Linked DNA regions of Homo sapiens: region 1 is linked to region 2. The links come from fine-mapping of genetic effects on gene expression. A gene starts in region 2. The other region holds a variant in brackets. All regions are shown on one strand. Distances are from middle to middle.

Evidence for each region. PIP is the estimated chance that this variant, and not a neighbour inherited with it, causes the effect.
Region 1: its variant is the best candidate, but not a certain one, in a credible set for the expression of CHRM3-AS2 in Th1/17 cells (Schmiedel 2018, PIP 0.56).

Annotation. Positions count from the first base shown.
Region 1 is chr1:239,687,594-239,703,571 of GRCh38, forward strand. All of the region lies in intron 5 of CHRM3 (cholinergic receptor muscarinic 3), which reads left to right. Among named protein-coding and RNA genes, the nearest start is that of CHRM3-AS2, 24 kb to the right of the region's middle. The variant A/C (reference allele first, on the strand shown) is at 7,832.
Region 2 is chr1:239,713,085-239,729,062 of GRCh38, forward strand. CHRM3-AS2 (CHRM3 antisense RNA 2) reads right to left here and starts at 6,035. Exons shown (of 3, transcript NR_103776.1): 1 at 5,866-6,035; 2 at 1,093-1,180. All of the region lies in intron 5 of CHRM3 (cholinergic receptor muscarinic 3), which reads left to right.

The DNA.
Region 1 (15,978 bases), 25 kb before region 2:
TGACATGTTTTAACCAGGGACAGTTAAGAAAATATTCATTAGAGTTTACACACATAGCCACGTGCTGCATAATGATGCTTCAGTCAAAGGCAGACCACAATAGAACAGTGCTCCCATAACATAATAACTACTGTTTCTATGTTCAGATATGTTTAGATAGCACAAATACCATTGTGTTACAATTGCCTACAATACTCAGTATAGTAATATGTTGCATAGGTTTGTAGCCTAGGAGCAATGGGCTATCCCATATAACCTAGGTATGTAGTAAACTATGCCATCTAGGTTTGTGTGAGTACCCTCTATGATGTCCACACAATAATGAAATTACCTAATGACACATTTCTTAGAACATGTTAATGTCGCTAAGTGATGCATGGATGTATGTTCTTACCACCATCAAATACGACTGCTCTTAAATGTGTCATGAATACTGATGCTTCACATTAATACACAAAACTGCTCTTAAGGTAGTTGCCAGCCTGAAAAAAATTGGGAGTTTTGATACTTTGTTACTTTTTCTTTTAATATATTGCAAGGTTTTTCACTGATCTATTTGCAGAAGGAAAAAAATACATATATATAATATACACATACACATACACATGTATTATATATAAAACACATGCACATATATGTATTATATAATCTATTATTAAATAATATATAATACATATATACACATATATATGTATATGTGGGTATTTTATATATATGTACGTATAGATATTTGTGTGTGTTTGTGTGTGTGTGCATATATATTCCCGTTAATTTGAAAGCATTGTTTTGGGTTTTAAATATATAAATATAAATATGTATATAAATATATATAAATATATTTACATATCATATTTATAAATATATTATATTATATATTATATATTATTCAATATACTATAATATATATTATATATGTTTAATACAATATATAATATTTACATATATTCCCATTTATTTATATAACATATATTATATGATATTATATATTACTCCATATAATATAATATATTATACATAATATATTACTCAGTATAATACATAATATATATAATATATTACTCGGTATAATATATAATATTATATGTTATGCAATATAATATATAATATTATATATAATACATTATTCAATATAATATATAATATTATATATAATACATTATTCAATATAATATATAATACACTATTCAATATAATATACAATATTATATATAATACATTATTCAATATAATATATATTATATAATATATATATTTATATATTTTATTTTTATATATTATATATTTATATATGTATATATAATATACATTTCTAAATTATTTTAAGTCATTTTGTATTCTTAGGATAGTTAAACTTGCCCTGCAATCTTATTTATTTCCTTGCTTTTCATATACAATGAAAGTGTATATGACTTTGGCTTGCAGTATTATGATAAATTCACCATTGATTAAGTCATAATTAAAGATTGCTATTCAAAGATTCAAAAATTAAAGATGGTAATTAAAGTATACTACCTTCTTTCTAATACAATACTACTACATTTATTTACAAATTCTCTAACCCTTTCTATGGGAGTTTTCAATAACAATTAGAGTAAAAATGTGATTTGTTTTAATGTTAATAATCACTAATCTTTTTTGTTGAAAAATATAGGATGAGATTTTTCTCAGTTTACTTTTTTTTCAGAGAAGGATTCTATATTGAAATGTCAAAAATGTAAGATGCAGGAGGATAAGGAACCAATGTTGCCTTAGCTTTGAGTACTTCCTTTGTGCACGCAGAAAGACTGACATTCAAATTTAGGCTAAATGTTGCTTACATAAAGGAATGAAAAAATGAATAAAAATATAAATTTCTCTAAAGTATTTTTTAATAAGAGTTAAAAGGATTACAAAATAGCAGCGTTTGTGAAATAGATTTTTAATATTGCTGCACATTAGAAAACATACAGTTATGCCTCAAATGTATTCAACTTATGTTGGAGGAGGGATTTCGTTTACTTCCACAACTTTGCACTACGTCTTCAGAGAGTTTGCTTTCTCTTTCTCAGAGATCCTAACAGCGGGATATCTATTGACTGCATATTCTGTGCCAAACATTCTTTTAGGCATTGATGCTAACACAGCAAATAAAACGGAAAAGCCTGTGCCTTTGTGGAGGTTATATTCTGGTAGAGGAAGGTGTAAAGTACTAGGATACACATGTAGATATTCCGTGTCCAGGGTACGGATTTCAGTCAGCAGCTGTCCAATTAGGGGAGATTTGGGAATATACCATGTTATTTTATGCCAATTCAAAGCCTGGGAAGAGGCAAGATTGCCCAGGGAGATCACATGGAGTGAGAGGAGGTAAGAACTCTAGGACTGCCCATGCTTCTGAGCCCATAACATCCCAGAACACGCTTAAAGGATCACTTGACACTAAAACAGAGAGAGAGAGACAGAGAGAGAGACACAGAGAGAGAGAGAGAGAGAGACAGAGAGAGTTGTTGGGTGGAGTTCTCCTTTTCTTCAAAGGCAATACATTCTCCTTCTGCCATACCATCCAGAATTTCATGGATTCACATTTCAATTTATTTCTCCAACTTTGTATGAGAGCAAGTTTTTGGAGATATAATACTTGAAATTTCTTTTCATTTATTTTATTTTATTTTAGAGACAGAGTCTCTCTGTCACCAGGCTGGAGTGACGGGATCTCGACTCACTGCAACCTCCGCCTCCCAGGTTCAAGCAATTCTCCTGCCTCAGTATCCCGAGTAGCTGGGGCTACAGGCGTGCACCACCACGCCCAGCTAATTTTTAAATTTAATTTTAGTTTTTTAGTAGAGACGGGTTTCACCACGTTGGCCAGGATGGTCTCGATCTCCTGACCTCATGATCAGCCCGCCATAGCCTCCCAAAGTGCTGGGATTACAGGTGTAAGCCACTGCACCCGGCCCTGAAATTTCTAAATGAATCCCAGCTAGGCAAAATAATCACCAAGAAAAGGGGCTACATTAACATAAATTGAGCATATTTAACACAAATTACTTTCTCATCTTAAGAAAAAAAAATTACTTAAAAATAGGACTATATTTGTCAAAATTTACCCCTTATATGGAAATTCACAATAATTTTCTTCTCTGCTTGGGAAAAGATCATCATTTAAAAGAGCTGCATATGGTTGTTTTTGTTAGTATTCCAAGAAATTCAGGATGTTTGTGTGATATGTAGTGGCTGAAAAATTTTATATATATATATATTTCTGATTCATCTGCTTGTAACAAAGTACCTAAATGTATATATAGTGATCTGAGGAGACAGGATCCAGTGGGTTAATGAGCAATGGCAAAGGATTTGAGGTTGAAGTGATGTTGATGTTTGGACCCCAGCTGCGGGTAGCAGAACAGCAGATACCTTTGGTTAGCTGTAACCATTAGCTATTGGTCTCTAGGCTGGACCAAGGGAAGCAAAGACCTTATATCACTCAGGAAATTTTGCTGGACTCTAATGGGAGGCGTCATGAGCTGAGCTCTTCCTGCTGCTGGGGGAATCCAGGAGCAGTCCCATTCAGGTCACCAGACCCCCATGGTCACAGAGTGAGAGCTGGGCAGTGATGGGCTTCAAGGGCAAATTTAAGATTTTCAGGAAGCAGCTGGCTTTTATTTGAAACTTGCAGGATCCCTTCAGACATATAAAAAGAGATACTGGTAAGTGCAGTGAAGAACTTGCAATGGTTGGGTTGTGAGAGTAATTTTTACAAATATTATGGTTCTGCCTTGGTGTTTGCTCAAAGAATTTTACCTCACTCAACATGTTGTTAGAACATTTTCCTGATTCCTACAAAAAAAAAAGAAAGAAAATATTTTAAAGGTCAGAAGCTACAAGCTTTTCATCATTTAGCCAAGACACATCGATAATATAGTCTATGTATTCAGTTTAAACAAAATGTCAACTTGCGAGAGTAACTATCAAGCTGTTACCTGAAGACAGATTAGAATTATATGAAGCTGTGGCCCTCACGCCTATCTGGAGATCTTATCATATAGTTATTCATCAGTTTTAAATGTTATATATTGTTCCTACGGAGAAAACAGCCACTCATAAATTTAAATGAACTCTAAATGTTTTATGTGTTATTAACCTTTTTTTCCTCAGTCGTGCTAATGTCTCCTAATTTAGATATATACATAAATAGTGAATTAAATGTCTGTCTCCATATTTTGATGTGAAATAGGATGTCTGCTTTAGACTCAAGGCTTACAAGCTCCAAAGGACACACCATTTGAGAATCCCCCCTAAAGACTAAATGTCTGGAAAGATCAACTGTGAAGTCATGAAATCAAAGAGTACTTATTTTAGTGTTTTGATAAGGATCCTGGGGCAAGAGACCCCAGGGGATGATCTCAAAATGAATTAGCGATTTTAAATGTCACCAGTGTCTTACATCAGTTTCCTCGAGACTCCTTTCCAGAAATCTACTCCGGTTTCCTTCCTCCATATCTAAGAAAGGGTCTTGCTCTTAGGCATCTTGAGCAAAACAGTAATATCTTCCAGATAAATAGTAACAGGCTGGTATCAGTCAGGCTGGGAGATACATTTAGGCATGTGTTTTTTGAAGGACCTGGCCTTGTTCATGATGATACACCTCATCTTCCTATGAACTTTGTATATGGATGGACCAGGCTTTTTGATGGGGCAGAGTATCTATAAAGTTTACATGAACTAAGGTCCAAGAATCAACACATTGGAGTTTAAATCTGCTCAGAGAGATTTCTGTATCAACAATAATTAAAAATCTGTGGTTAGTTATTTTTTTAAATGAACTCTCCTTGAGTAAGAAATAGCAGCTGAGGTTAAAGAAGGGACTGTGTGTCTCACTGTTTTGAAATATTGTCATCTATTTTCAAAAATAACATGAAAGGACCACAAGGTAATCCTGCTGTTATACTCAAACCTGATTAGACTCTAATGAGTAAATTGGTTCCATTACTCAAGAGGAACATGGACAATTTGAAGAGGGTTTGCAGGATAATCACAAAAATTAATAACCTAACAAAAGGCAGGAAAAGTTATGAAAACTGAAGTGCTTGCCAATAGGAAATTCAATGATCTTTGAACTCAGGAAGAGCTACTTGAGAGAAGATGCTGATACCGTTTGTTCTTCCTGTAAGGAAAAAAACAGACAGCAACCACCAATGTAAAGGCTTTACACTGGAGTAAGGGAACAGTTTCTCCATGGTGAAACTTGGGAAATTGCAGGAGTGAGACTTAAAGAAAATTGTAGCATTTAATTGTTCAAAGGACCTGGCTAAAGAGAAGACAGATTTTTTCATCTGTTTGTTTTGGCTTCAGTACATTCTGACCTTACGTTGATTCTTTAATTTTTCCAACAGTTTCTATGAATTTTGTTCATGTACTTTGTAAGTGTACATCTTAAGTGCATTTAGGAGTAAGAAACCAGATCACGTGCAGTGTTTGTATCCCTGCTCTGTGTTCATGCACGCCTGTGCTTCCTGCATATTTCCTTCACACTGCTTTGAAGGAGAAGTATGGTAATTGTTACCTTTGGCTCTCTACAAAATCATGGCTACACAGTTCAAAGTAGACTCTCTCCATCCCCTTTTTGTTCATGAAGTTCTAGTAATTCTTAGACTCTTCAGAGTATCATGGTCTGAATTTTGAAACTCCCCAAATTTCTGCATTAAAGCCCCAACCCCCAATGCAACTGTATTTGGAGATATGGGTTTTAGGAGGTAATAAAGCATAAATGAGGCCATAAGGGTAGGATCTCTCTCTCTCTCTCTTCTCATGCAAAGACCATATGAGAAGGTGGCATTCTGCAAGCCAAGGAAGAGAGCCCTAACCAGAAACCAAATTGGCTGAAATCTTGGTCTTGAACTTCCCAGCCTCTAGAACTCTGAAAAATAAATGTCTGTTGTTTAAGGCATCCAGTGGCATTTTGTTATGGCAGCCCAAGCGGACTAATATTTAGAGGCAAGTTTGCTTCTTGACTGTCATAATTATATTATTTTTGAATTGGTTTAATTAGAAGAAACCTTAGAAATTGGATAGCCTTTCCTTGTAATTGTCTCTGTAGAGGTGAGAAGTGGGAAAACCCAAGATAGTGGGGGCAAGGTGAGGGTGGTAGGAAAGGCTGAGGTCAGCCCATAGTTTGACCGTGTCTTATTAGAGTGAAAAGACACTTTGGATATGCCATGCAAGTGAAATGCAGGAATATCCTTTAATTTGGATTCATTTAATGCTTTGGTGATATTAGATTAGGAGATAAATGTGTAGGGTTTCCTTCAATTTCATACCTGATAGGGCTTATTTTTCCAATATGAATAAAAGATATGTTAGCCTCTGGCTAATATATGAATGACAGAAAGCCATATTTCAGAAAGATGATTTCCAATCCCTTTTCATATAGCAATAATTCATCTATTAGATACTGTGTATTGGGGTGCCGTGAGCATTATGCTGTTTGTATGATATGCAGGCTTCAGACCGTTAGATATCTATGGAGCTTAAGAGAATTAAAGACAAAAATAAGCACTCCAAAATATATAACCTAGTTAGAGCATATTTACATATGTCAAAAATAATTGAGCTCTTCCACCTCTCGAACTTGTTTTATTCATAAAGAATTAGATGATCGATACAAACCTAAAAACTTATGATTGTAATGAAGACAATTTCACAGTATCTTGAGGCATGAAGTCAACAATGAATGCAAGATCCTTCTCTGCCTCACTGTGAAAACACAAATAATTTGTCACAGGTTCTAGGGAGCTCATCCATTTCAGGCATATGATTATGCCTCTGCTTCCACACAGTGGCCTTGGGCAAATGAACCCTCTAAGTTCTGAATCTTTAAAACAAGGCTTAACGTTCCAAAAAATAAGGAAAGGTCTTAGACATTATTTGGCAGAAAGTGCTTATGAAATGTGAATTCACTCTTGCATCATGGTGAATTAATATTTTTTGGCTGTTTGGTGTATAACAGTAGAGATGATTTCCCTTCTTCTGATTTAAAAATATTGTATTTCATTTTTACCTTAAGGATCAGAGCTTAAAAATCAAAGGGATTAAAATGTTCCATTTCCTTGCCCATTGGTGGGCATATGAAAATTGAATTGAATAAAAATGGAGTCATCCTTTGTATTTTAAGATAAACAATATCCTAAAATTATCACACTAATCTTAATCTGCATTTTCAATATAAACAAAAATCAGTATCTTTTATTTTAAAATATTAATAATATGTACAGGTTGTTTTAATACAGGCTACACTTTTATTTTTATCAGTCTTTTTTTTAACCTTGTAGAGTCGTGTATTTATTTTTCATTGGTGTCTATGCTGCAGACCAAAAAATGAACCATAGAAATGATGCAAGGAAAGATGGAACTGATTATTGAAATGTTTTACTCTTTTCTGTATACAATTTTATTTTTTTGAGACGGAGTCTCGCTCTGTTGCCCAGCTGGAATGCAGTGGCGCCATCTCAGCTCGCTGCAACCTCTGCCTCCCGGGTTCAAGAGATTCTTCTGCCTCAGCCTCCTGAGTAGCTGGGACTACAGGCGCATGCCACCACACCCAGCTAAGTTTTTGTATTTTTAGTAGAGACGGGGTTTCACCATGTTGGCCAGGATGGTGTCTGTCTCCTGACCTCGTGATCCACCCGCCTCCGCCTCCCAAAGTGCTGGGATTACAGGTGTGAGCCACTGTGCCCGGCCATACAATTTTTATACAGAAAATACCATCTTATTTTTTAATATTTTGTATAGTTTCTTACTATATACACAGTACTAACAAATTAAAATTTTATTTTGTAGATTGTTATTTAGGAAA[A/C]TTTAGCTTACTGCTTAGATATGTTGGCACATTGATATTACTTGCATATTTATTTTGCTTCACTTTCACAAGAAATCTGGGAGATCTTGAGGGGCCAGTGATTAAAACCATCCTCCTTATTTGTCTGTGTTCAGCTATAGTCATTCCCTGGGAAACAATAAAAGCTCAAGTTCAGTTTATGAGCTTCAGTGATAAAAATGCAAAGTTATGCTATAAGGATTTTTAAAAATATTATTATATTTATATAAACTGATTTTTCCCTCAGAGTACTCATAATTAGAGGAAAGGAAAAGGAAAGGAAACTCATTTAAACAATTGTTTTTAAGAGCCAGAAAAAAAAATTTTCATTAGTTTTGAAATATTGCTGGTTTGCTATTCTATAATGAGATTTTGAACTAGACTTACACAGTTATTTAACTTTACTTGTTTGGGGAATACGCTCAAAAATTTGCACAATTCATGTGCACTAAGTACTTCAAAAGTATTTATCTTGATTTTTCCCCTTTGTTTTAGTGAATGGATTACCTGTATACGCATTGTTATATATAGTAGCATTATCTCTGTGTTAAACATCACCTTTTCATGTATGTACTGACATATTCTCTCCTATAACTGTTAATTACAATACAGAGAACATGTAAGCCAGGGCTTGAAGTCGTAAGACATGATTTCTGGTCTTAACTTTGTTGTTTGCTAAATGCCTGGCCTTGGGTGGGACATTTAACCTCCCTAAACTCCAGTTTCTGCATCATTAAGATGGAAATAGTGATAGCTGTCCTATGGCTTGTCAGGATATCTTATATCAAAAATCTTATACCTGTTCCGTGACTTGCCAAGAAATCTTATATCAAGGCAAAAAGTGCTATCTTTTGTAAACTATCATGTGCTATAAAAAGTGCTGCCTTTTGTAAACTGTAAAGTACTATAAAAATTTGCGCTGTCATCTGAGTGACAGTGTAGATGTCTTGGCTGAAGCGTGGACACTGGTGCCTTTCTCCTAGGGTTCATCACTCACCTGTCATTTTTACATGCTTGATGACTTAGGGTAAGATCCTTAAACTGTGTGAGTTTCAACTTCCTCATCTTTAAAATGAGACCTATGAAAACACCCACTTCCCAGGGCCAAAGTACAGTTTGAACAATAAAATACATGGAAAGCACCTACAGATGAGCCTGACAGGTAGCCAGCATTAAATAAATAATTAATATTATCTCCTTTAAAGTACACAGATTCAGTAGCATACTGGCACATTTATGTAGCTGGCATTTGTGCAGACTCAGAGTAATATGAATTATGTGTCAAAAATGTCTTTTATTTTCATCTTGATGACATTTAGTTTTTCTATTAACTGAATAATACACGTTTGCTATAAAAGCTCAGAATATACAGAGAAGCCTCAGGACAAAAACAAAAACCAGCAGTCATCTAAATAAAATCCTTTTCGTTCCCTCTAATTATGACCACTGTAAGGGAAAAAAACTGTTCATTAATAGTACTTTAAAAATTTTTGGTAGCCCAAGGTTGGTTTTTTATCACCAAAGCTTATAACACAAGCTTAAGTCTTTATTGTGTTTCAGGGAATAACTATAGTAAGCACAGGGAACTAAGGATGATTATTTTAGTCACTGGCCCCTCAAAATCTCCCAGATTTCTTGTAAACATGAAGTAAAGTAAATATGCAAGTAATATCAATATGGCAACATGTCTGATATGGTTTGGCTGTGTCCCCACCCAAATCTCATCTTGAATTCCCACGTGTTGTGGGAGGGACCTGGTGGGAGGTAATTGAATCATGGGGGCAGGTCTTTCCCATGCTGTTCTCATGATAGTGAATGAGTCTCGTGAGATCTGATGGTTTTATAAAGGCAAGTTTCCCCGCACAAGCTCTCTCTTTTCCTGCTGCTATCCATGCCACGTGACTTGCTCCTCCTTGCCTTCCACCATGATTGTGAGGCTTCCCCAACTACGTGGAAGTCCAATTAAACCTCTTTCTTTTGTAAATTGCCCAGTCACTGACTAATACAATGTCATACAGTAAACTACCCAAATAAAATCACCATTTAGCATGTTTCAGAAGGAGAAGCATTTGAGCAAAAAATGATATCAGGGAAAATCAAGGCTCATAGATGGCAAGGATAGAAAGGAGATGGGTTTGAGTGCAGAGAAACCAGTCCCTAAGAACCGACATCCAGCAAAGGAGGAAGAATTCAAGACACATAAGAGAGAGGGAGGCAACAGACATTTAAAACTACAGTAGTTTTAAAAAGAACTGAGAATTGCTCCACTACTCCAAAGGCCGAAGAGCTAAAACCTGTGGCCTTGCTTAGGGTAGAGTTACAGTGGTTTCCCCATTGCCTCCCATAGTATTTGGCCACTTTGCTGGCAGGATTGTCTCCAGAGTGGTTTGTAGAGAGGTCTAGAGGTACACATAGAAACCACCTTCCAGTTCTTTCTTCAAAAAATAAAAGTAAAATAGGAAAGAAAACAATTCCCTGAATCATTTTCTTCATACTTGTGGCATCAAAAACCACTGTCCTGGTAGATGATGAGAGAGAGCTGGCAGCATAGAAAAGTAAGGGTGGAAAGGTGACTAAATTTCATGTCTCTGGCTTTATGCAGACAGAATGAAGAATTATTCATACACAGGAGCAATTTTTAAAAAGAGATTCTGAGAAAGAACTGACAAGCCAAGTTTGTTAAATTCGTTTTCTAAAAACAGGCATTAAAAGGTAATTATTATTTTGTAAAACTGTGTACCGTGACAGGTATTATGAATGCTGTGATGTCTATACTTGACATTACTACATAATTAAGACTAGATTATTTCAAATCTTGAGAAATCACTCTCCTATTTCCTTCTCAAAGGTCATTATTTCTAAGTCATTAGTCTACAAGGAAATATTAGAGTACTTGAATAGCATATAGGAAAGGAGCTTACAAGTTTAAAGCAGATTTATTCTTTAGATGCTGCAGGAATTTGATTTACAATTGTGGACCTCTCAAAAGGCAGGAACATGCATATCTGATATCTTGACATTCTAGAATTCTACTCAAACACTTCATCTACAAAGAGTGAAAGTGAATCAATTACATTTCTCATTTTCTGGAAGTAAAATACTTAACACCGTAAGACTATTAAATTGATCAGCAGTGCATAGCATTTCAGATACAATAAATGTATTAATAACATACTTCCAATCAAGCATATACACTTTTGGCAAAAGTCAATTCTTCCAAATATCAAAGGCTGATTTTCCCATGGTCACCCAGAGTATCCAGCTGCTGTCTTACTGCAGAAACATTGAGTTTAATAAACGCTTACTGAGGGCCAACCATGTGTCCTCTGAGCTCTGACCAAGGTATACAGGTGCCATCCCTCCACATGACCAGGATCTGCATTGTCTGTGTCCTTCTTGCCTCACAGACCCACTTGCACTTCAAAAGTAATAGAATAGTCTCTGAATCAGTTCTTCTTGATGAGTTGACATGCAGGTATGTTCTCACACACTTACTTCTTTCAGCATAATTCTAAAACTGTATATACATTTTTATTAAAACCTGGAAAGTAAAGAGTTTTAAAAAGAAGAAAAAAATGAGACCTTCATAGTTTGTCATACTGAGTCAACCACAGTTAACATATTGGCATTTTTCTTTGAAGAGTTTTTTTTTCTAAGTTTTTCTCACCATGATTTTAATAATATTGCATGTGTTGTTTCTGTATTCTTATTTCATGTATTAAAAGTATGTTCTGTTTTACTACATAGTTTTGCAAAACTCATTTTTGAGTAGTATTATGGACTGAGTTGTATTCCTCCAAAACACATATGTTGAAGCGTAACTCCCAGTGTGATGGTATTTGGAGAGGGGAGTTTGGGGAGGTGATTACCCTTAGATGAGGTCCAATAGGATTAGTGCCTTGGTTCAATGCCCTCTTATAAGGGATTAGAGCCCTTATAAGAAGAGATAGCTATCTCTCTTTGTCTTTTCCTTCACACTTGCACAAAGAAGAGGTCATGTGAAAATGTGTTGAGAAGGCAGCTGTATTTGCCAAGTGACGAGAACCCTCACCAGGAATTGAATGGTCTAGCATCTTGATCTTGGACTTCCCAGACTCGAGCCATGAGAGATAAATTTCTCTTGCTTAAGTCACCCGATCTGTAGCTTGAGCAGACTAAGACAAGTGGCTATATCATGTGTTGTTTAATTATTTCTGATTGTTCATAACAATAAAATTAGGATGTATGTCTTCATACATAAAGTATTTTTGTGTATTCCACATTACTTCCTTTGTATAAATTCTCAGAAGTGGAATTATTTGATGAAACATGGAAACACTGACTAAATGTTTACAAATTGGTTATAACAAATTGCATACCCAAAAGAATAAGGAAAACATATCTCTGAAACCTAACAGCATTGAACCTGAAACTGTGACCAAAACTCTCTAAATTATTAGTTAGACTATCCGAACTATATTTGATAACACCCTTAAGAAAATAGGGAAGAAAATTAGGTTTATTTTCTGTTGTCTTTACTTTTTTTCTAGTCTTAATTTTCATTCTATTCAGCAGGATTCATTTTCCATCACTCTGGAAGGAAAAAAGAAACCTGAATTCCTATGCCTTCAGATATTTAATTAATTTTTTTTCATGGAAGAAAGGTGATATCTGATAAACAGATCCTCATAAAAGAAATACTAAGTAACAACTACTGGACTCTTTGCTCATCAACTTGTATACCTTTCTATCGAGGTACCAGTGTTCCCTTTTATTCCGCCATTCCTGAGAACTGGGTGTGATATAATGTTAGAATCTCAGCTTTCAAAAGGATCTTGGGGCTATCAACCTCACATCCCATCTAATATATGCCATTCCGTCTATAACATCTTCAGCAGGTATCCATTTAATGTCAGCATGAGTACGTTCAGTGACAAGGAGCTCACTATTTCACAAGTCAGTCTAATTTACAGATATTCATCTTTGACCATTGGAAAATTGCCCTAAAAAGCAAGTCCCAAACTCTGAAACTTCTATGCATTAATGCTGGTACTGCCCTCTGACAGGATCATGAAGAACAAATCTAATTCCACTTTCACTTGATAACCCCTCAGAACTTTGAAAAGCGCTATCAAACAAGCCTTTTCCTAGGTAAACATTCTCAGTTCATCCCCTGTCCCCTGCAGCATATGCCTTTAAGTCCCACTGGCATCTTAATGGGCATATTCCTATTAGAGACAGTCATGCACCTGTAGCCCGCAGACTCGTTTTTGGTCCTTGAGTGTTTGGGAGGAAAATTAAGAAAGATGTGTGGGACGTTATTTCTTTAGTTTGGCACACTCCTCCTGTTTTCTTACTTAAGAAGTGTTTCCTTATCTAAGTTACCTAGCGGCTTTGGGAAGTGTTCCAGTTTGTAATTTGTGTGTGAAAGGGCAGCTCCTGTCTATCATACCACCCTGAATGTGCCTGATCTCATTTGAAAGGGCAGCTCCCTTGACTGGACCCGTACTGTAGATATGATGTGAACAGCCTGGAGGAAAAGAGCTACCATCTCCCTTATCCTAACTATATTCCACTAATGATTAAAACCTGTGTGACGCTTTTATCAGCTGTTTCTACCCTTTACTTTTATTTACCCTTCAGTTGTCTTCTTAATAATAACTAAAGTTCCTAAGACATTTTCTGACTGATTGGCAATCCAGTTGACTAAAGTTCTCCACTCTTTTACTTGTGCAGTTAATTTTTTGAACCTAAGCATAGAACTCTGCACATAGTACCACTGACCATCATCTTCCTAAAGTCAGTTCAACTAGGCAGAATTTTGAGGACTTTTTGGTCCTCGTTCTACCAGTTCTTCACGGGATTGTGTGGTCTTCAGACAGCCTTCTCTCTCTAGCATGTACTGATAAACTAATGAGCAAGACCAGACAGAGGGGTGCCCAGAGGCATGGCGCTGAAAACCTTTCCGTTTCCCACTGGGTCCTCCATGCTTCTTTCTCTTCTTTGAATCTTTCCTCATTCACCAAGAATTGTCACCAAGGTGTGCAAGATCTGTCCTTAAAATGACTGTCAAGTTCTCCTCCTTGTTGTCATGATTGACAGCTGTCCCTCATCAAATTAGGCCTAGAGTTGTGCCAGTAATTACCTAGCTCAGCTATCTGGCTCTTACCTCTCACGTTCTCATCCATCCTGCATAACATTGCCTGATCATTTTCCTAAAATATCACATTCATCACGTCTCTTCTGCTCCTGATCTTTTAATAGACTCCAGTTAGAAATGCAGATCCCTCTGTGTAGAGTGCATGGCCTCAGTCATCTCATTCCTTCCTAACCCACCCATTGTTCTATGCAGCCTGGACTCCGATCGCCGTAGGTATGTTTGCTCCTTCTCACCCCATTCCTCGCTCATGCTATTCCTTCCATCTGGAATATTCCTCACTCTCCTTATCAACTATCCAAATCTTATCTACTCTTTAAAGGCCAGATTTCAACCTCTTTTCTCCATGTAATTTATTTGCTTTTGTTTATGTTAATCACTCTAAGTCAACTCCTAATGTCTAGATAATAATTTTTCTATTAATATTATCACTTTATAGTTCTAGTCATGTCAAGCTTCTTCTTCTGGGCTGCAGGGAAGTTTCCTCGAGGAGAAGCAATTTCATTCAATGCTTTGGTAGAAACCGTTTTTCCTCAAATAGCATTAAACAGATGGTTGATGCTTGGTGAATGTTGCTGCTCTTTGGTTGACTTATTTACCTTTTAAAGGAAGGTAGTACTTAAATTCGTCACTGATCTTGGAATTTCAAGTTGAGGATAACATTTTGGGGTAATTAACCTATACCCAGTTATTCTAACAGTATTTCTGAAGAGCTGCCTACTTGCCCCCAAAACATGGGTGTTTTGGATTCAGTTCTGGCATTTATATCAAGGGAGGATGCTGCTGTAAGTTCTGGTTTTGCAAACACTGTACACAACTTCTTCTGTTTGCTAAGTAATCTCCCTCTGGGTGCTACTCTGAGCTAACTTTCACAAATGTTCATTTCACTTGTAAGTCTAGGAAGGTAAGCATTGTCTTCTTCCCTTCCCAAATAAAAACTTTAGTATTATAATAGCTTGCAGAAAGTTTCTGTCTGGCATATTAACTTAATGTCTACCATTTACAAAAAGAAAATTCACCTCTCACTTTGCTTTTTTCTTTTTCTTCAGACAGAGTCTCACTCTGTTGCCCAGGCTGGAGTGAGCGCAGTGGCGCGATCTCAGCTCACTGCAGCCTCTGCCTCCTGGGTTCAAGTGAGTCTCATGCCTCAGCTTCCTGAGTAGCTAGGATTATAGGCATGTGCCACCAGGTAATACGATTTTAAGAAACAAATTTAATTCACTTAGTTATATATTTCTGTGCAGACCTGAATTCCCATTCAAAGAAAGTAGCCTGTTACAGGTAACTTTCTTTGTGTGTCCTGATTCATAGTATATTTATTTTAGCAACATCTATAATCTATAATAGATACCATGTGCAAATTGATAATATTTTTAAGTGCTTCACAAATCCCACAGACTGCTATTCCACTCTCCCATGTCAGATATTGTTAAAATTAATTCAAAGTAGTATCACCACCCCAGAAATATATTGATTAGGCCCCCCAACTTTAGGCTTTATGGCAGTGGGCTTGATGTTCTAAAAAGAGAGGAACATTGATAAGCCATACTTCTATTCTCCTGGGAAATTCTTTTTTGCTCAATTATCTTACAAGTTCACATCAATTTCTTGTTCCTCAGGTAACAGAGGAAGTTCCTAAGTTGTCTGGAGATTGCATGTCCTCACACACTAAAATCCTCTGAGCTGAATGATTCAGCTTTCACTATTGCTGTGTCTGTGGACAAAAAAGCAAAATGTGAGTCAATTCCAGGTTCCGTCACATTTGGGAGTTGCCAAGTAAAGGAAAACATAAAAGATTAATGTTATTATTCTGATTTTATTTTGTTTTGAGGAGAAGCGTGGGAAATGACTACCATACAAATCAAGAAATTCATGAAGGCAAACAGTTGATGACTGTCACCTAGCAATCTGTTATTTTCTTTTATCCTTTCCCCAAGACATATGCCCTCTGACATAAGCATTAAAATCAAATTATACAATTGTCAGAAAACCT
Region 2 (15,978 bases):
GCAAAGACTGTGTCAACGTACTTCATGGGCATTTCTGTGCGGTAGAAGACAAGAGCATAAAGTACATTAAGTACATTAAGTGGGAGGCAGCTGAGCAAAATAAAGTGAATTCCGAATTGGAAGTCAGAGATCTGAATTGCAGTTCCAGTTATACTGTTTATTATCTACACACCCTTAACCAAGTCATTTCTGAGTTCTGGGTGTCCATTCCTTAATCTGTAATTATGGATGACACTATTTGCTCTGTAATTATACTGTCGATTCTCTAGGGATGGTTGATATCTTGTTCTTCCTTTCCATCACAATTGTGCCTGGCCCATTGCTCATCAAAGGCTTTTTGAGGAATTAAAATAGGTATGTTGAGGGGAACAAAATAAAATAATAAACAGAACAAGCTCCAAATAAAATGTAAAATGCTGAATGCAACTGTAATCTTATTCTGTTTACTGCATTATTGAAGATGCATTGCTTCTTCTACAATTTGCACAAACACCAACATCACATTGATGAGAAGCATCCCTCTATGTTGGGCTTAGTTATTCTATAGCTCCCATCACAGATCTCCATGGACAGAGAATTTTGCATTTCCCTATATCATACTGTTATGTCAGCCACAGCTGGGGTGACCACTTGTCCCAGTTTGCTGGAGACCTCTGCAGTTTACCTCTGTTGCTGAGGCACAATTATGATTACTCTCTTTCACTAACAAACATGCCTTAGTCTGGATGATAAATTGTGTGATCACCTTATTTAAGTATAAAAAACGGTGTTCCATTAAATTGTTTTATGGACGAGGGACAAAACATAAGCCCAGAGAAATGTATGTACCTCTTTAAGGTTTTAAGCCCTGTTCTTTAAACCAGACATGATGTTAATACGGCAGATTTCTTTCATATCATTTGGGTAATTCATCTGTGTATGCCTAACCAGCAATGCTTACAAAATTAGAAGATGTCTCTCAAGGCCTTAGTTCTTAGACTTAAAACTGCTTTTTGCTTGCCTGCGGGAAACCCAGCCTTCTATTAGTTTTCCCATCTGAAGAACTTCTGGAAATTTCCAGGATCTTCATTCATTAATTCAATAAATACTCACAGAACTAGCACAGCCAGCATGCCATGAGCTCCTGAGTGTGCAGTGGTGAACAAGAATGGAGAGCCTTGGCCCTCATGGAGCTCGTCATCTAAAGAGAGAAACAGGTGTTAGCAATTTTATAAACAAAAAGCTGCTCTTCTGATACTGCACCTAACTCACAATGCTTCAGATAAAAGGTGGCAGTGGAGAGTGCTCTGAGAGCACCTGATAGTGAGATGTGAGCTCATCAAGAATGCTCAGGGGACGTTTCTTCTTGGAAGGTCCAGTTAAGCTGAGACCCGAAAGGTAAATCAGAGTTACTTGGGTGAGGAGGGATGAGCAGAGGCAGAAGACAGCTTGTGCCAAGGCCCTGCGGTAGAAGGGTGCACAGGCACAGGACGGGGAGGAGACAGAAAGGACAGAATTTGCACAAACACATAACACAGCAGGAAGGGAAAGCCTAGTGGAAAATGAGGCTGCAGAAGTAGCTGAAGAGGTAGGGAAGAAATTCAAGTGTTTTAAGCCAGGGGTGATACAATCAGAATTGTGCCTAGAAAATATTAGCTCAGCTCAGTTGTGAAGAATAGACTGAGGGGCAGGAGAACCAGAGTAGGTGAGGTGACAAGGAAGGAGGCAAAATTTGATGAGTTTGGGGATTTTAGATGCCTGATGTCTTGAATGACCTAAGTGGACAGTTGTACAGTGGTAACTACAGCATGTGAGAGAGATGTGAGAGAGACATGGCATTGCATGGGATGAAGATTTTGCCAATAGTTTAAGCTGAGAAAGAGTACTGTGGAAAAACTTGCTAAAAGGTAGACAAATGAAAAGAACCCAGAAAAGAAAAGACCATGGAGGTAAGGGGGAATTCAGGGAATGATGATGTCCTGAAGCCAGAGAAAGAGTGAATTATAAGATGGGAGTGGCTAACAATATCAAATACCACAGATTAAGTGAGTAAAAACTGAGAAGGACCCATTAGGTTTATCAACTATGAGTTACTGATTACCTTGGAAATATCAACTTCAATGAAGAACTGTTAAGAATTAAAGGCATATTTAAATTGGTTAAGAGCAAATGATTGGGTACACACTACATATTTTAAGTAGTTAGAACATAAAAGGACAGAGGGCACTATAACTAGAAGAGGAAATAGGCTATGCACCAGAATTTTTGTCAATGATTTTATTTGTTTTGTTTTGAGAAGGCGTGTGTGCAGTGGTGTTCTGATAAACCAGGCCTCCAGAGGAGAAATAAAAGCTCTAATTTGTAGCTATTACAGATGACCATGGCGTAAATACCGTCACCATGGCTGGAGTAAAACTATCATGGAAGAATGCAGAAGGCATTCAGAATACCTTATTGAATGCAGATTTGAGAAGATACCTACAATTAGCTATCAGCTCCAGTGCACCACCACATAGAAACCAATGGGATGGGAGAGGTTGAAGGTTTGTGTGAGAAGTGGGATTGCTAATAAAACAGATAAAGAGGGAGGAAGGTAGGATCCAGAGTAAAAGTGGGAAGATTAGTTTTGGATAAGAGAAAAGATATCTCTTCTAATGAGTTGGGTGGCAAAGAGTTAGGCTGGAATCAGTTCATAGGGAGGAAAGGACATTGAGTTAATTCTCACTTCACAGGCTATTTTACCTGTAAATTAGGACAGGAGGGCTTTGCTGAGAGTGAGGAAGTGGCAGTTTGTACATACTGTTGGATTGGAAGAAACAGTTAAAGCTTGAAAGAAAAGGAGATGTGGAAGGAAATTTGGACAGTGTTGAAGTCCTAGTGATGTTGAAGACCAGGGCTTTGTACCAGTACCATTCTGCAGAGTCACATGAAGTTAACCAGAATGTAGCAACCCAGGTGTATGAAAACAGACATAAAATAATTGCATTGATCTTGGGTTGAAATTCTGGAGGAAAATGTGGAGGGACGACAAGAATTCAAACGAGAAGTGGGTACTAACAGGAGGATGTTTGAAGTGATAGGCTATGATGTCTAGGTTAAAGAGAGAAGAAAGTAGAGCCAAAGGGAGCTTTTAGAAGTAAAGAAAGTGATACTTTTAGGGGATTTGAGATATGAATGAGGTTGTAGAACTGATGGAGTGGAAATACAAAGTCGGTAGAGTTGAAAAGTTGGTTGGCGCTGTTTAGAGAATAACTTCACAGAGTGAACAAGTATAGAGGTGGCCAAGTTTGGGGTCTCCATGATTGTGACTGGCTGAAGCAGAGTGGAGGTTCAAAAAGACTATTGTAGTGAATAATAGGGAGCTATAAAGCAGGTGCTGGTTGATAATCGAAAAGGGCATTGACGTCATCCAGGATCTTGGGTTGGATATTAAGACTTTAAGCCATGTACCAAAGCCTTTGTTAAATGTAGAAGGCTTCACTGGGACTCCAGCCATTCACAGGGAGAAATGATGTTTACAGCTAAACAGTGTGACTCTCAAAAGAGCCTTTTTTTGCAAGAGAGTGAATAAATAATATTTTTAATTTGGTAATAAGGAAAGCTAACCAGTGGGTCCTAAAATAGAATTAAAAAAAGAAGAGGAAGAGGAGAAGGGAGAAGAAGGGAAAGGAAAGAAGAACCTAAACTTTAAAAAACCTTGCTAGAAGAAGGGAGGGGCCCAAACGTAGCTCAAGGGGAGCGGGGATGTAGCTCTCTGACAAAATGAGAATGTACAGGAGGGTTCATTTGGTTTATTTGTATGTGTATTTGGTTGTTTGGCTTTGTTTAGATTTGTTATTAATAGTTTGTTTTGATTTTAACCATCCATATGGCATATTTGAAGAATACTTGTTCCAGATAATAGTTATGAGATGACATATTAAGGGACAATAATTGAAATGTCCTCAATGCCAGAAAAACAAATGTTCTCAATCACTTCCAGTTTTTTTTTTTGCATGAATAAAGTTACCATGAGTACATTTTCCAAAAAAGAAAAAGTTCAAATGTAAGATCTGAGTTGAATTGTGAGCTTCTCTAACGGTGTTCTTGGATTCATTTTTCAACTGCAAAAGATTGAGATCCTGAATAAGGCTTATGGGTGTATTAAAACTGTGCCCTTGCAGAGGAAGTAGCCTTGAATAGTTATTGGCTTTGAAAGCAACCAGTTTTGTTGACTTAATTATGCTGGTACCAGGAAAGCATAGAATAGATCCTGTTGATAACAAGAGCCATGCTGGACATTAACAGTTTCACAGAGAGTAGTGGGGACCATTTCTTTGGAATAAAGTTGAAACATGTTTCTTAATAGACAACTCTCTCAGCATTATAAAATCCTGATACAGAACTCAAGGAAAGACACACACGCACACACACACACACACATGATTTTTATCGTTGTTATCTTAGTAAATAATGACTAATGTGGTTTTTGGTTGTTATCAGTTGGTTACGGATTGGAGTTAACATTTCATCAGATCTGAGCAATAACCTATGTGGTAAAGTCCTAGTGTGGCAGGAATTTGGGATTCAAGGGGGGTGCTTATATAATCTGCTTTCTTAAGGTAAGGTTTGCTCTTTTATGCTACCTGTCATTTCTGCCTTAAACAATGTCCGGGAAATTCAGCCACACACAACAAAGAACCAGATCCCTCATTTCGGTTCTATCCTTCCTCCTCTAGAACTGACATTCCTTGGGGCCGTGTCCTCAAGTGACGTGTCCTGCTCTAGCTAAATGGCAGTAATCTGTGTTTGACTCCAGCAGTTTATCAAGCTATGTCATTTTATGCCATGTCAGTTTATAGAGAGTGGCACAAGATACAACAGGATAGGGAAGCTGAGTTTTCTATTTGTCTACTTCATTGAAAACATGATTTTGTTTACTGACAAGTAAATGGTATAGGTGTAAGGAAAGAGTAGCAACTACCATATTATTTTGCCAGAATCCTCATGTTACCGTTTCAAAAAATGCCAAGAAAGATGACAGTGCATGTTATAACATCCCTTACAAATAATAGCAAAGCTTTAATCAGCTGCTACACAGACACACTCAGGATTGAAATGCAACCTACTAGGGTGAAACATGACAAGCGGTTCATTGAACACTGCGCAGAAGGTAAATGAAGTGTATATTTTCCAATCACAACTGGAATTTTAAGTGAGTGAAATGGAATAAACTCAGTTTGGAATTTGAAATAAATTCACCATGGAATGTGTCTTAGAGACCAAGGTTTACACTAGCGCTATACAAACTCCTCAGCGTGAAACATGACACAAGGTGAAATTTTCCTGGCATCTTAGAGTCAGATACTGACTTCTGAAGGACCAGGGCACAGACATTTCATCAAGAGCTATTTGTTTCTAATTGGGGAAGAAAATACAGATGTTTATATAATACTCTGGGTCAGGAGTAATATTCCACCTGGTACATGGAGTTTTGTACACTTTTTCAGAGGTGGTATTTCTAGCTGAGTGTTAGCAGTAAAACATTTTCATCAAATTTCCATTCTTTTTTTTTTGAAGCCTACTTGCATAGTTCTAAGGAGTGTCATAGCTCACACATAGTGACACTGATTAGTAAAAATAAGAAGTGATTGAAGAAAACACAAGGAAAGAATCAACTTGAAGTCATTCAGAAGTAACCACTAGTAGCAATTTAACTACCCTGTTGCCAAAGCTCTTTTCTTAAATTACAGATCCTCATGAGCTAGTAAGTTTGAAGGGGAGTCATAAAGAGGAACAGGCATTATACGCAAGGCTGAAGAAGCAGTTGGTAACTAACAGTACATCTTTTTCTAAGGTAAGTTTAAGGTCACAAAAAGACTTAATGTACAGAGTTGAAAAACTTACATATTTCTTAGAAGCTTAGAAGTTATGAGTTTAGTTGGGGCTCCAGGAAGATGCAAGATGCTAGACTCCAAAAAATAAGAGAGAGGTCCAGTGTAGAATAACACTCTATAGATTAAAGGAGGACTCAAGAGTAGAGGAAAAACTTAGCAAAATACAGGGCTATGAGTTAGGTGTTCCTAGTTAGAGTCTGAGTGTCCGGAAATGATGAAATGGGTGAGCTCCAAGAATGCAGGATATGTGAAATTGGTAATCAGATCTACTGGTTTGCTTGTTCTGAGTGTATCGTTAGGGTTTTTGGGGACTGGTGTTAGTGGTGTTGGCAGAATTAGTCCCCTGCTCTTGGTTATACCTGTCCACTTTAAACAGTAGCTTGTAGTTATTTAGCCCTTAATTGCATTCAGGTAAAACCAATATAGCACCCTATAATTCAGCAAATATTTGTTTTCCTGGCAGTATTACAGTTTCAGGGGGCAGTTCTAAGGTGATTACAGTTTCCACTGCTTGGAGCTTTCTGTATATTTATCCTTGGATTAGACTCAAAGTAAGCTGATTTTATCAAGCCACCGGGTAATTCTGACCATTTCATCTGGCGATTTTAGTACGGTATTGTTGCAGCTGACCTGTATACGTAAGGAATTACTGGGTCATCAGCTCTGGGGAATGTCTTTTGATTATGAACACATTTTCAGCATGTGTCCACTGAAGGTAAGGGGCAAAGAATTGCACGATCTACTTGAATGCCTGTTTAAATAGATAAAAGTGGGATTTTGGGCACGGCCTGGTTATATCTTCTTAAACGTAGGTAGTAGAGCCGCAACTCAGCGTAGCAACAAGAGATCTTTTGAACAACTGAACATTCAGATGAAGCAACTATGTCCTTCAAACCACATCCTTCCTGCTGCCTGTGGGAAAGGGGTGATATTTGTGTTGAGCTCTGAGCACATGCAGAATAGATCTGTGTGTATTTCCACAAATAAAAGGACATTGTGTGTGTGTTTGGCACCTGGGATGGCAAAAGCAGTTAATTGCTTCCGAAAGCTTTGTTCCAACCCAGGGATCGGCAGGATTTTTAAGCACTGAACTAGGAACTGGGCACTAAAAATACTTATGCAGAAGACCTATGATAGCAGTAAGTTTACAGAGCAGAGCTAAGACTTGCAAACCGTGTTGTATCTGTGTCTTTACTTACTATGGTTGAGAGGAAAGGATTTACACGCTGCGTTTGCAACCTGCAAAGTAATGAGCCGTGTTGTAGTAACATTTTGAGATATTGTATGTTGTGTTGTTTATATGAGGATCATTCAGAATATATAGAATATAAGTATATGTTTTTCTAAAACAAAAAACTTTGCCCTAGTTTCTTTGCATATATTGTTCACATCATGTTCATATAGTCACTGGCAGTTAATGATTTTTGTCATTTAGTCAGAAACAAAGTAGTGCTCTGCCTCTGAAACCCCAAAAAAACCTAAATTAAAGTAAAATTAAAAGATGTATTAAAATTAAACTTGGATTATCAAAATGAAACAGTAATGCTCTCGTGCCACTCAACGCCAGACTTTTCATGTTGCAGATAGCAAGTGAACAGAAAGCTAAGCATGAACATATTTTAAATGCTCCTGATATTTTCAAATGCTTAATCCTAAGCCTTAAAGGGTTTTATCTATAGAGATTTGGGGAATTTCAGTGTTTCTTTTTCTTATTTTAGATTTCCTGTTAAGTTATTCTCCAGAGTTTTTATATAAAATGCACGAATAAGCATGATTTAACGAGAAGACAAAGTCTTAAGTGCTGTAATTCATGTTGGAAATCATGAGTATTTTTAAGTCTTCTTACTTATAATCAAAGTGGTCATCTCCTGAATATAATGAAAATAAGAGCAAGTGATAGCCCCTTATCTTTATTTAAATATGCTTTATCTGCAGGAGTTTGAACAACTCAGGCAAGGAAATATTTTGTTGAGAGGCAAGATGCATTTTTAAATTTATTTTTGCTTAATATGTGCTCAACTTAAATTGATTTGAGAACATATATTTAAGCAAGGTCTTCATAAATTATTATAAAATGAGAATTGTATATTGTGACATGTTTAATAATCATGATTTTATTCCAGTGATCCAATAAAAGGAGTGCTCAATTGAAGGAATGGAAATGTGTCAAAAAGCCCAAACTCTGCACAGTATAATGATTCCTAATTCTCAAAAAATCCAATGGGTTTTAGTTTCTAAAAGTGATACGATAAAAGAGTACAGAGTCTCTCTCTAATTCTGTGAGTGAAATTCTCTTTAGAGGGAATGCTGAATAAAAAAGATAAGATCAGGGAAAGAGGTGAAAGAAATGTTCTTCTCCAGTTCACCTTACATTAGGAGTCAACTTTTACCCAAGCTCAGGCAAAGTTACTTATATGAGAATCCCGGTACTTCAGGATGGAGAGAATGAGAAACAAGAAAATGATAGGCATGGTATTAAATCTTAGGTATGGCAATTCTATTGAGCAACATTAATGTTTTGGAAGGTTCTAAATCATAATAAGAAGTATGTATCTCATGCATGATACAAATGCATTTCATTAACAGGGAGAACAAGGTTTAGAGCTGAAAGTAAATCAAAGTAAGAGTTTGTATTTTAATGAAGTACAGAAGAGCTGCCCTCCTAAAGGATTGAAAAGGACTCAAAAATGTCCTTTACATATTGTCAGTACAAATGAAGAACATGTATTGAATTAATTCCTACACAGAAAATTCATCATGGAATAGCCAATAGGTATTATCTTTCTACAGTATGAGAAGTACAAAAGAAGTCTTTACTATATAATCTGATTCAGATTATATGCACTCGTGTGTATCATAGGCACTCATGAAACAATTGGAGAAAAATACAAACAAAACAAAGCAATGTAATGGTGTGGCATGAAAAAATAAATATTGCAGCAGGTGAGCGAGGGAAATCAGAGCTGATGTGGGAGATTTGCAGGACAGTGACTTTTTTTTAAGATGCACTTTTAAAAGGGGTGAAATGTGTCCCTTCAACACAAGGCATTCCAAACCATGAAATCCTAGAAGAAAATGAAAAATCATTAATTTGCCAATTCACATTCAGCTTTTGGTTCATGGGACAGGCATTTAGATACAACACAACCTATTTGATCTTCTCCTCCATAAATCATTCAGTTCCTTTAATGTTCCAGCCAAAGTCTGTGAAGCAATGTAACTGCTTGATTTTGTCAGGCGATTTATAAAAATGTAGTCACCTGGAAAATGCTAAAGGGATTGACTGAAACCAATTTTCACTCTTGTGAAATGCATCTTTGTTTCAGTCAGGTTGACTCAATAGCTAACAAAACAGAAAGAACCTGACAGACATGTTTCCCAGTGCCCATTGGCCTTATGTGCCTACCCACTCACATATACCTAGTTAGTTGCATGAACAGATATTATTGCTGTCTCCTCCCCACAAATATTATTTTTGCTACCTTAAAAAGACTTTCCTCTTGCAATTTAACAGTAAAAGGACACAAATAACAAAATCTTAAGACTTAAGTTCTAGTCTTAATATCATTGCCTATAGGAGTTGTGACTTTGGTTTTTAGTTCACATCTCTTAGTCTTGGTTTTTCTTCATTGCATTATTACTCATTAAGCACTCTGAGCAATACAAATGCATTTTCTGCAGTGCAAATGTATTGGAATTGACAATCTTCATTATGTTAAATATTAAGTAGAACTTTGTACAAATAATGCATTTCATTTAGAACTGAGTTAACATATTCAAGAGTGGCATTGAATTCAGAAACTGAATTGTTTCTGGCCTGGACAAGCTATGCATTTATGGTTAAGAACATTCATAAACATGATTGTACCTTATTGAATCTCATATTTCTTATAACTTATTTTTTTCATTGTTAACACATTCCAGGGTAAATATGAACATGTATCAACTAGGGAATATAAAAAATCAAAAGAGAAATAAAAATCAACTAGAATTGGTTGATTATGTCATCACTGTACTAATTCGTTTTCCTCAAAGTACAAAAATTCCATGTTGATGCATATATTGTACCTAGATTAGCACTTGGAGCCAATAGAGACTTTTGAATTTTCTCAGTATCCTCTGCTTTCTATCTCTCATTTCACCTCTGTAAGGTGAGAAATACTGTTGAGTTGGAATGTCAATAATATCTAAACTGGCTTTCATTAATAAGAGGTAACTATGTCCATTTATTTAGCTATACACCAGGCACTAGCACTCAATTACTTGCCAGAAATGCTAAATACATGAAACAATTCTGTTCAATAAGGATAAAACAGTGCCTAAGTAATTTCTATAGGTATTCTAAGGATAAAATAAGGAAAAAAATAAATGCATTCTAAAGTATAATTAATTATAGCTTTAATTTTTAAATGTCAATGTTTTGTCAATATTTTTCTTTGAAAGGTTAACAATGTATATTATCTTAATAGAGATCACATGAATCAAATTATATTTTGCCTTATTTTGGACTGTTTCAACTTTGTCTTTCAAAATAAATAATGGGTCAATAAGGGTTGCCAAATTCAATACTGAGACAAATGTTTATTAAGCTCCCATATGGCTATTACTAAAATGTACTACTACAAATATCTGTAATAATTGCTGCCATATATCGAAAAATTCCTGTATGCCAGACACTGCTTAGTACTTCATATGTTCTGTCTCACCACACTGATCATTTGCAGGATATAAGGTGATTAAATATAATCCCCATCATTTGGGGCAAATTGTATGAGATGTGTGTAGAATTAGAGTAGGAGTTGCTGTGGGTCAACATGACTGGCCCAGGGCTAATACGTTTTAAGGCCCTCCTCTTCTCACCATTTAGCCTCTTGGGATTCTAGAACTTAAAGATGAGGCCTCATAGTATAGGCCAGTAGAAGTTTGCATCCTGTCTGCAGCAGTTCAACTGAGTGCCAGATTGAGAAGCCTGCCAAAACTCCAGGGGCTTTCACCACAAAAAGTAGGGAAACAAACTTCATTTTGTGAATGGGTATATTTTGGCCCTGAGCTGACATTCACTGAAGCCAAGCTGTACAGCCTCTGGTATTCTCAAATATGCTTAAAAACCCACAAACCTGCCTTTTTTTTTTCCATCCAAGTCAATATTGGCCCAAAGTCAGAAGCCTTGCCTTTTTTGGTCATGTTGTAGATGCTGGACCAATGTCGACTTGGTAAGAATGTTGACTTAGGAGGGCATGGACGCATCCTGGCCCTTATAAACCTCCCAGATTTACAGAAGTGCCTCTTGAGCTCTTAATGAAATGAAGTAAGTCTAATTCTCTGTATTAGGTTGTTTATTGAGCAGACTCATGGCAAAGCCCAAAACAGTATACCTGTGGGGCTGATATTGGCAAAGTGATAATATCTTTGTAGTATTCTTCAGATTAAGCTGTTTTCTTTTTCTTTTTATCACCATATATGGTAGTGGCTAAGAGTCAGTTTTAGAATTATGAGTTAATAAATCCAGGCTTTGCCATTTAATTGTTTGTGCATTGGAAGTTTACTTAACCTCACTCTATTTCCCTTAGGTGTAAAATGCATATATCAGTAGGGCTGTTGGGAGGATTCAGTGGGATTATAGAGGTGAAGTGCTTAGCACAGTGTCTGATACATACAGCACACTCAATAAATGCTAATGTGAGAATAAGATAATGTTTAGGGTAAGGATTCTTTAGTTGGGCATTTATTTTCACATAGATATTCCAAATATACCTGAAAGAGAGCTCCTTCATCTTCCTCCCCGTGATCCATTGATGTCTCTGTGTGTCATATTCCAATGTTTTACCAAATTATTGAAGCTAGAAATTCTAATTGCCAGCTCTTTCTTCCCTGGCCCCCACATCTAATCAACTACCAAGGCCTTATGGTTTTACCATCTAAATATGGTCTTGAACTTCCCAGTTCAAGCGGTCCTCCTGCCTCAGCCTCACAAGGTGCTGAAATTACAGTCATGACCCACCCCACCATGCCCAGCCCAGTTACTTATTGTTATATTTAATCTTGTTACTATTCCCCTCTGCTATGCCTGTGTGCACTCTCAGCTGTGTTGCTCTTCCTATTACTTAGCAATACAGACTAAGCACCTTAGGATGGTGTTATCTTTGATCTAGCTGCTGCTTCCTTCTCCAACAACCTATTTTAGACTTAGAAAAGTATTTAGTAAGCTTTATTCTTGTCTGGAGGATAATGGCAGTGTATTTTTCTTTGTTTTGGTAGTATAACGCTAGCATACTTTATGAAATGATTATGTCCTTTTTCTACCATTAGAAGGGTTAAATTGAAGCTTGGGAAACATAAATACCTGTAATTGGTGAATTACTGACCATTTTTTCCCAAAATACTATGTTATCAATGAGTAAACAGATCAGGTAAAAAGCCTGCATATACAAATTAAAATTGAATATATTTCTCCTGAAAATCGATGAAAAGATATTTTTATCTACTAGAGTAATTCCACCGTATGCAGCAGGATATACTTTTTGTTTCTAGTTGCTGGACATGCCTGATGTTTCTATGCCAAAATGTCTCACTGAATAAATAAAGATAACATAATTGCCTCATTTATTAGATTTTAAACTGCTTGACAGGAGAGAGACTGTCTGACAAGTGTGCTTAGAACAGGGCAGAATACTTTGTCATCAATCTGTAAATGCGTGTTGATTGATTGGTGGCCGGGTCATGGATTTTGGATTGTTTAACCAACAGTAATGAAAGCTTTGCTGTCTAGCTAAACGCTTTATAAAGACTCTTTGCCCTGACGTCTGTCTGGAATTTGCAAACTATTTCAAAAAGGTAAAGCTACCTTCTTGGGTAGCTTTGGGTAAAAATAATTTAGACTGGGTAAAAATAATGGCTTGAATTCAAGTGAGCAAATGTATAACTTGATTATGCAGATGTACAGACTTTTCTTAAAATTTATTAAGCAGTATTATAAAATATTACAAAAACACCAGTGTAAATGTCTTTAAACTGCCCCATACTTGTATATTATAGCACAGAGATCAGAAAAATCACAACCCTCAGGTGAAATCTGGCCCATTCCCTGTTTTTATAAGAGAATTTGTATTGGAACACAGCCATGCACGTTCATTTACATGTTGTCTATGACTGCTTGTGCACTACAACAGCAGAGCTGAGTAATTCCAACAATGCCTTTGGAACCGCCAAGGCCCTTTTCTGAAAAGCGTATTGACCTTTGTTCTAGCACATTGTAGATCATGTGCTATTCTAATTATTTTGTGTCTAGATGCTGTTACATTAACATGTAATTTTGGTGCATTGTGAGTCTGTGTAGGTTTTACGCATGCATTAAAATAATACTCCTATGTGTACCGAACTTTTGAATCAAATAATAGTAGATGGATAATATTTTATGAGGTTAATGTGCCATATGTTACAAAACTAGATTCTATTTATTGATCATTTAGTTTTTTTTCCGCCATATTTTCTTACATTGTGACTAATCTTGATTTACCTTTGAAAAAACCTGATGTTCATTTGCCTCGTGGCTGGGTTTAAGCATAACATATTAAAGTAGTTCCTATACCTAAAGAGGTTATCAGGTAGTTGTATCAGGTTTTGTGGAGCTCAGAACTGACTTTAATGGCTTCAGCAATTACTTGTCTGATTCTCTATAAGATGCATGGTGATATCTAGTGTACAGAACACTTGACTGAAATCAATGGGCAATAATTCTGTTTTCTGCTGAATGTAAAATCCTTAACAACCGCTGGCTTAGCTTTTCTTCTGTGAAATTAGACATGACAATAAATGTCTTATTGAACCAGCTTCAAGAAATGGTGTGTTGATGAGACTGTGTGTTTGTTAATAAATAAGAACAATTTCATTATTGCAATCCCAGCATCTAGCAGTACCTGATAGCAGTACTTATTGAATACTCTTTGCCTAAATTAATAATTATACAACTTAAAATCGTAAATGTTCTGGAAAGCTACCATTAACAATAGAACTAGCTTCTAGACTTAGTAACTTTTAGTTTGGTTACTGGGTCCACCACTCACTGTCTCCAAAAATTTACAAAAATCATTTAAGCTCTAAGCCACAATTTTCTCATGTGTATTATAGTGATAATAATAGTACTTATCCCATACAGTTATTGTGAAGATCAAAAAAAATCAAAATAAAGCACTAACAATGTGCTTGACACATAGTCCCTACCCAGTAAATGTAAGTTACTGTCATGTTTCAATGCAGTTCTTAAATGGAGAGCTATAGTCTGCTTTGAAGGTAATTATTCCTGGAAGGTTTTCATTTTCTATTTGGACAGAATTGTTATTCTGAGTAGCCTGCACCTGACCCCAAAAGAATGAATATTAAAATGTATTCTTATTTTAAAATGTCAGTTTCATAATTTCTTGGCCAATTGGACCTTCCACAGTGAGGCACTCTCTCTGACCTTTTTTGGTAGCACCAATTGTTTAAAAGTCTCTATATAATTTTAAAAAGCTTTTGTGCTACTTTTCCTTCATGCTTATTATGAATTTGAAATCGTGTGCTATAAAAAGTATTTGGCTGTATGTGCTTTTATAATGAAAGTAATTTAATTGGGCATTCTGCCTCCACAGATCAGCAAGGGTCAAAATGACTTTTTTAAAGAGAACATGAGAGAAGCATTACAGAAGTCAGAGAGGGTAAAAAAAAAAAGACCTCACCTTTTGCTTTCAGCACCGAATGATGCAGGCTTCATTAAGGCCAGTGGCGAGTCTCGTGTGTCGTGTATTTGCAAACCTGCTCCACTGACGGATACCTTCCCACATGTGTTCCTTGGAGTGGATGGTTAATCACCCCACATCTGTTTAGCTGGTACCTGCACAATTAGACAATCCTGGGACAAGGACACCTTAAGCACATGACACCAACTATCCTTACTCACTATTTTTTTTCTGAAATTCTTGCTGCCCTTGAAGTTTCCTTGTTGAGCTTTTCCAAGATTACACTTGTCGTGCTGTAAGACTACTAGAAAATAAATACTTTTCTTAAAGATGGGACACCCCAATCAAGCTAATTTACATAATCAACTCCTTTTCACACAATGCTGGTAGGATTGTAAACTACCTTTTTGCCCATTGTTGTTAAAGGTTTGCTAGTTTACATAATCTATTCCTTTTCACACAATGTTGGTAGGATTGTAGAATCAACTACCTTTTTGCCCATTGTTGTTAAGGGTTTTCTGGAAGTGGAGCAAATATGCTTCACTCTTAACAAACACTTACTTCACAACATTCCCACTGACAGAAGCTGAATTTAACGTTAGTTTTCATGGTTATATCCCCTTTGAATGAGATTAGGATATAACAGAATGAGACCTTAGGAGTTCGGGCAAAAATACCTGCTTTGTATAAGATGAAAACATGCCTATTCTGTAACCAACTCTCTGATAAAGGAAGTAATGTAGGTACAGTGATTAGGAGAGGAATCGTCTAGAAGACACCATGTCCATCCATCAATATTCCTACTTAGTTTGGTCAAGTGAGTCTTTCAAATCTTTGAATCTTTGTTTGCCTATATATTGTAAGTTCACAATGGTAGTTCAGTTAAGTATTATATGGATAAATTGCTCTTCAAAATATTAACAATAACAATTGACAAGTCTCTATAAAAATCAGCAAAAACGTTATGATCTTCTCATGTAGCTGAAGGTGGTGGAGTTAATGGAATAACATTAATTCATTCTTAAACCAGAATGGAATTTTTGTCACAAGGTCTCTGCTTTTCATTCTAACTTCTACTCAAGGATCTACTAAACCTTTTTGTCAAAGAGTCTCCATTGTGTGCACACACACACACTCACATATACGCCCTTTGAATCATCACAAGCACTTTTATTATTACTATAGATTAAGCCAATGTGGATTCATTCATTCAATCCTTCATTCAAAATGTCTTGAGTGCCCATCGTGTTTAAAGCATTGCCTTGATCAGCAGTTCTCTAAGTGTAGTGTGTTGCCAAGCTGTGTGTTTTCCAGACCCTTTCAGGGAGTGCATGAGATGAGAACACTGAGAATGACATGAACTTTATTACAATACTAATACTCATAAGAACTCACTGTGTTGACATTTG